2 linked regions of the Homo sapiens genome follow. The protein of the gene in region 2 purifies or fractionates together with the protein of the main gene of each other region. This does not show direct contact. Each region holds a gene or a part of one and is shown on either strand. Other genes may lie near its edges.

The links.
Region 1: the proteins of CACUL1 (region 2) and RAP1A purify together in Homo sapiens (affinity purification with mass spectrometry; one large-scale study listed by BioGRID and IntAct). This does not show direct contact.

What each region holds. Positions count from the first base shown.
Region 1 is NC_000001.11:111,696,289-111,699,788, reverse strand, and holds part of RAP1A (ras-related protein Rap-1A precursor), read right to left. Parts: intron 2,349-3,500; coding exon 2,292-2,348; intron 1-2,291. UniProt on the Homo sapiens protein: Counteracts the mitogenic function of Ras, at least partly because it can interact with Ras GAPs and RAF in a competitive manner. Together with ITGB1BP1, regulates KRIT1 localization to microtubules and membranes.
Region 2 is NC_000010.11:118,692,471-118,695,970, forward strand, and holds part of CACUL1 (CDK2-associated and cullin domain-containing protein 1), read right to left. Parts: intron 2,761-3,500; coding exon 2,671-2,760; intron 1-2,670.

The DNA.
Region 1 (3,500 bases), on a different chromosome or scaffold from region 2:
GGCACTAAAGGAAATGAGATGGCCTGGGTGCAGTGGCTCACACCTGTTATCCCAGCACTTTGGGAGGCCAAAGACAGGAGGATCCCTTGAGTCCAGTTCAAGACCAGCTTGGACAATATAGTGAGACCCTGTCTCTACAAAAAATTAAAAAAAAAAAAAAGCTAGGTGTGGTGGTATGCACCTGCAGTAGCACCAGCTCCTCAGGAGGTTATGGTGGGAGGATTTCTTGACCCTGGGAGGTTGAAGCTGCAGTGATCTGTGTTCACACCACTGCACTCCAGCCTGGGTGACAGAGAGAGACCCTGTTTCAAAAAAAAAAAAAAAAGAGGAAGTGAGATGGATAAAGAAAAAAGTAGTGAGTAATGGAGGATAAGATGCTTGGAAATTAGATTAGAGAGGTATTATACTTATTGGTAATCACATAGCCTAGAGTAAAACCATGGTATGAATGCCTTAAAGGTAGGATGGACATCAAGGAAATGACAGGCCAAGCCAGGGTAGTAAATCATTTATAATATCCATATAGATTCTATATGGATAGTAAAATCACTAAGAATTCTGATTGAATCAGTGTATGTGAAAGAGAGAAAGCAAAAATCTTCAAAGTGTAAGGAGTGATTTTGAGACAAGATTATGCAGCTGTTTGTAAGGTTTTATGCAAGGTACTGGGGACACAAACAAGCAAATAGGCCTTATAACACAGCGTGTTGAGTGCTAGATGGGAGACAGACACGATATTGGATAGCACAAAGTAAAGATCTCTGTGATAGAGAACTTCCTTCTTACAATCTGGACAGAGAAAGAAGAATGCCCGTACACTGTGGATGTGATTTAAAAAAAAAAAAAGCAGAAAGTATTCATTTTAGCTATTAGGGTCTCTGGAAACAAAGGGGAATTCTGCTGATTCAGAAGCTAAAAACATTAGAGAGCAGGAGGGTGGGAGAGGGAGAGATAGCTTGATTCAGCTGATAGAAAATGTAGTTTCAGAAGGTCTTTACCAGAAGCTTGTTGTGAGGGCAAAGGTCCCTGATAAGAGTTAAGCCATTTTCCCAAAAAAGAATGGAAAAATACAGTATAATTAGTACTATATTGTTGTATAAAATCACTCCAATTTGCTTACATGCTTTTTTGAACTATCTGAAATGTTTCCATCATTTATAAAAATTATAGTGGAAAACTTTGTGCTGAATTTTAAACAACTTATCACATTTAAAAATGCCAGCCAGGTGCCATGGCTCACACCTATAATCCCAGCACTTTCAGAAGCAGAGCCAGGAAGAACACTTGAGGTCAGGAGTTCGAGATTAGCCTGGGCAACACAGCGAAACCACCTCTACAAAAAAAATTTTTTTATTAGCTGGGGGTGGTGGTACGTGCCTTTAATTCTAGCTACCCAGGAGGCTGAGGCAGGAAGACTGTTTGAGCCCAGGAGACTGCGGTGAACTATGATTGCACCACTACACCCTAGCCTAGGTGACAGAGCAAGACCTCGTCTCTTAAGCAAAACAAAAAACGAACCCATCCATTTTAAAGCTAAGAATTGCCTAATGTGTCAAGTCTATGTGCATGGAGAAAAATAAACAAAGAAAAGCAAAGATTGCTTAATGTATGTATTTTATGTGGCAGTATAACTGGAAACCATCAGTTATTAATAAAAATTATAAAGGTGATGGTATTAATGAAGAAGAATAAAAGCAAATACACAATTCCATACTGTGTAACAGACATTATGCCTAATGATTTATAATTATTAACTCATTTGCTTATCACAAACACCTTATGATGTACTAACATCATTATACTCATTTAAAGATTAGAAAAAGGAGGCTCAAAATAATTCTAAATCTTCTGAGGAAGATTTTTGCCTTCCTCAGAAAACATGTATCTGTCACCAGCCCCTTGAGATGTCAAAATGCTAGTGAAAAGAAAAAATTATAAAAATTAATGACTATGGTGCCAAGAGACAAGGTCTTATTTAAACCCATAGAAATACAAATATTAACTAAAGCTCTAAATTTAAAATAAATTTTAAAAAATCACTGACAGCATAATCCTTACCTCAATGTAGGAAGAAACCCAACACACAGATTATTACAGGTGAACTTTGTGATATGTGAGCATGAACTACATCAGAGTTGATTTCATATACTTAAGAATCCCTATGTTCAGAGAATTTCTTCTTAATCAGAATGATTACTTTTACTCAGAATTATCTGGATGACAAAACCTACTCAGATGACAAAACCTGCTCACAAATTAAAATCTATCAAAAAAAGAGAAAACATCCTTACTGTCCCTGCAGTATCCAGGATTTCGAGCATACACTGTTGGCAATCGACTTCAACTTGCTGTGGGGGCAAAAAAAAAAAAAAGGTTAAAGAGTAACATCAAAATCTCATTCTGTTTTCTTCCCACCTCTTCCATCAAAGTAACTATTAACAAATACAAAGCCTGTCTCCAGCAGTATGCTGTAATGGCTGGGGGTAAACTTGGTACCACAATAAAGAACAGCGGTCTCAAGTACAGTCTATTCATATTACAGAAGCCAAGATGGTTAATGCTGAGTTTAGATATTTTCTGACCTCTGTAACGATTCTTATTTGTTATTAGAAAAGGCAAAAGTCATATTTTGAAATTTAAGGAAAACTTCAACGAACAAGTATAGTTCTAACAGAAAAAAAAGTACATATGTGTATTTATATTATCTCCAAAGAAAACAAAGTACAAAAATATTAAATGGCTCAAAATGCGCACAACATTTTGGGGTAAAGAAAATCTTGCCAACTTACCATGTTCAAGTTGTTAAAATTTTACTAAAATATGCAGAAAATTAAATACACAGTAAAATCTGAGTTTAAGACATAAAAGAAACACAGGAGTACTAAAATAAACAGCAATGAGCTAAAACAGTGCCTCAAGAAAAAGGCACTTTTCTAGAAAAGCTCTATGTGAAAGGTGAAATTTTATACACTGAGTTCTATTTACCCATTGGTCTTATAAAAGAAAAGAAGGTTGGTCTAATGAAAGTATCAACTATCAACTGTGTGGAAAACTGTTTTAATAAAGAAGGGATTAAGAAAAGTTAGTCCCTTAGAATTTTAGGTACAGATCTTGCTTTGCAGTTAAAGCTTTAACTAGCAACTTACTTTGGGGAAATTTCAGTAGAGCAACACTGTCTTCTAAAAATAAATGTGCTAACCTAAAGACTATTTTAAACTCTGCTTCTGTGTCAGATCAGACATTGATGAGGGGCACCACTGGTCAGACCACAAACTCATCCACCCCACCACTTATGGGACAAGTGTGATAATCTGCAAAATTTGTAACTGGGAATGTTCAGTGAATAATCAATTAGGACTATAGTTTCTTGATGTATCTAGAGCATAATTCTGTTTCCAATTTGAAGACAATGAAACTGCTCTACTAGTAGTCCTTCATGAACTAACAAATTAATTCAACAAAAGTTACAGCACTATTAAAGGTAAATTCTAAAAATGTCT
Region 2 (3,500 bases):
TATTTAAAAAAATTCAAGCTAAAATAAATATACTCTCTCCTTTTTATTCAGTGAACATTAAAGAGAATTAACACCCACCTGTATCAAGGGCATGGGGAAACCAGTATTTCCCTTCCTTGGTGGTGGTCCTCAATTAACACTATTACTCATTTTGAATTGTTTTAATCTAGCCCTTTTACATTTTTCCTCTTGGAAAACATTTTGGCTACACATGTCAAAAACTATAAAAATATTAATGCTCTTGAATCACTTTAAAAACGATAATCTGAGTAAATGATTATAAATCAGAAAAAGCCACGCTTGATGCTGTGGAACATTTGCTCTGTGGTAAGTAAAAAAGTAGAAGTTAATAAAACGTCTAACAGGAGAATAGCTAATTAAAGCTGGCAAATAAGCACTGCAAATGATACAAGGACCAATCCATTCAGTCACGCCTTGGGAGAAACTCGTGGCAAAATGCTTCCCTCCTTCCAGTCCAGCTCAAATATGGCTTCACTAAGAGTCTCAATACAGTGCTACAGAGAACCACTAATCAGTCACAGCTGGCAAAGTCAAACCCATCTGCCACAAAATAAAGATGAAGAAACAAAGTGTGTGTATTAAATGAAAACGGGCAGAATAGGATTGCTGGAACTATTTCTAAAGAATGGATGCCAAAAATGGTAAGTCATGAGAATCTCCAAGGATTACAGCCCAGGAATCTAGAGTTTAAAAAGCCTTCTTAAGTGACTCAGATGCAGTCATACAAAGACCAGCACTTGCGAACTACTGCAGTAGAACAAACTTTTGCTTTCAAAATTCAACTTTTAAAATATTCTAATCTTAATCTGTCAGGTGAATAAAATGGCTTTAATAAAGCAGGAACATAATGGGTACTGGCAAAACATGTAAATGTCAAAATATGTTTTCAAGTATCTCAGAAAATGTGCAGGGCAGCAAAAGGTTAGTATGTGATAAAATTCACCTTTTCAAAAGGACAATTCTCAAATATAGAATTCTCCTTACAAGTAGTATAAATCCTATTACAAGAGCTTGAACCTGGATAAAATAGCATTTAGATAAACATGTACCCACAATACTTTTCTACCTTTAGTGATAAACTTTATTTTGCAATTTTGTTACGTATGATAAAAGCCAGTGCTTATAAGCTGCCTACTTGGGAGGCAGAATTTGTCATACTGCACTTAGATGCTTTCAAAGGAAAAAAAATCATTCATAACCTGGTACACACACTATTTCAGGAGCCATCTTCATCACACTGCTGTAAAATTCTGAGAAACTAAATACAGAAAAGTATCAGTTTATTGGACATATGCAATAAAATCTTTACTACTTTATACAAGTAATTTCTGTTAAAAGTCACAGAAAGTAAAGCTCAAACCCTAGATCCAAATTTAACAATAAATTTGAATACTCTAGATGTCATTAATCATTTAAAGTAGCCTAAGGGTTTTGTTTTGTTTTGATGGAGTCTCACTCTATCGCCCAGGCTGGAGTGCAGTGGTACAATCAGCTCAGGAAGTAGCTGGGACTACAGGCGCCCGCCACCATACCAGGCTAATTTTTTCTATTTTTAGTAGAGACGAGGTTTCACCGTGTTAGCCAGGATGGTCTGGATCTCCTGACCTCGTGATCTGCCCGCCTCGGCCTCCCAAAGTGCTGGGGATCACAGGTGTGAGCCACCACACCCAGCCTAAGAAGGTATTTCTAAAATCAGTCTACCAGTACCAGTTTTCACTTGGTTTCCATTTTAGCTTGCTAAATTCTGACAGGTCGTTTAATTAAGCAAACAAGCCATCAATTAATTAAAATAACCATTAAACTCAAATGGATAGTAATAACAGCAGTGAATGTTTGCATGCTTATTATGTTATCAGGTACTGTGCGTTAAGCTCTTTATATCATGTTTTATTTCATTTAATCCTCAAACAACAAAAGAATTTCACAAAAAGGTAATTACTATCTAAAAAGCATTCCTTGTATTTATAGATTGTAGAACAACGTTCTATCCTGATAACTTTTGTAATCTCTCTCCCATGGACATTTATAAGTTGCTAGACAACTCTATGACAAGTTTGAGGTTCCGGCTTATAGAAAGATATATACAAAAGCTCCTTGGGATTCCTTTAAATTTATAATGTTTTATTCTAAGATAGAGAGACACATTAAGAATTTAAAAACCATGCTTTTGACTATAGTGATCTTTGGTATTTGCTTTGGTTCTTGTGATTGTCTCTCTCCCCAGAACATCCTTACAAAATGACTGTAACTTTACCAACACTTCTAGATTCTTCGCAAGTTACTTAACAGGCCTAAGAAGACGGGGTTGTGAATGTGGATGTCTGTAAGTATGTGCAGCGTGAGGCAGGAAGTAAAGAAGAAACTAAGACCAAACATGAGATTCAATTTTATCCAAAGTGTATCCTACAATTTATTTCTTGTATTTCCCTCACAGGTTCTGCAAAAACCACACTAGTTGGTTTCCACTAGCAGAGAACATTCCAACTGAGCTCTGAGTTTACATTTCACAATGATGAGTATCTACTCAATTTTTTTGCTCCAGCAAATCCAAGTACCATTAAGCCTCACAAAACACATACAGAACCACTGCCCTCTTGGAAAAGGCTGTAACAAACAGTTCCAATCCCAACAGAAATGAGAAATGTTTACCTGGTCTGAGGGTATACAGGCCTTTCACAATATTTGCCATAGTTGAAGGTGTGACCTGAAATGGTGTTGACTGGGCTTCTAAAAGTAAAGCTGAAATAAGAAAACAGGTTAAAAAGAATGTAACACATATTGACTGTCAAGATTTCTCTATTACTGTTTCTCCCAAAGACTCCTGAAACATAAACAATTGTAAGAAAGGAACAGTCCAATAAACCAATCAAATGTTTATATACTAAGGATTTTATTTTTTTAATCCACTGCAGTAGCTAAAATACGTGAAGGTCTGCTGGCCACTAATGGAAATGAATCAATTCATGAAGGTTCTGAAAAGTAAGTAAAGCTTTCTAAAAGCACTAGTATAATGTATCATGAATGATACATTATAAGTGAGTTGAAAGTGCTTCCATTACATTTGGAGAATAAAGTATCATATGATAATCTCCCTCAATCATTTCTCCTTCCCCCAAAACACCATTAGTAATTATTTGGTAACTGTGATCAGAGACAGAAATTCATTTCCACAAATGCTATAGCTACATCTACTATTTTCTTACAAGAGCTAAGGGCAAGGGATGATAATGGCTCATCTTTCTCATTTTCATGTCTTTGGTGACCCTGACTCTGAACATGACAACAGAGACAGTTTTCTTTTAGGTTATCTACTGCCACACAAACATTTTTAAGAAGTTTTTAACGAGTAAGAATAATTCCTCTAGATAAGATCACTAACAAATACAAGTGAATTCCATTGATAAGTGAACACAACAGATACTACTGACCTAAAATGATTCATTTTTAATTTATCTCAAAGAGCTGCATTTGCTAATAAC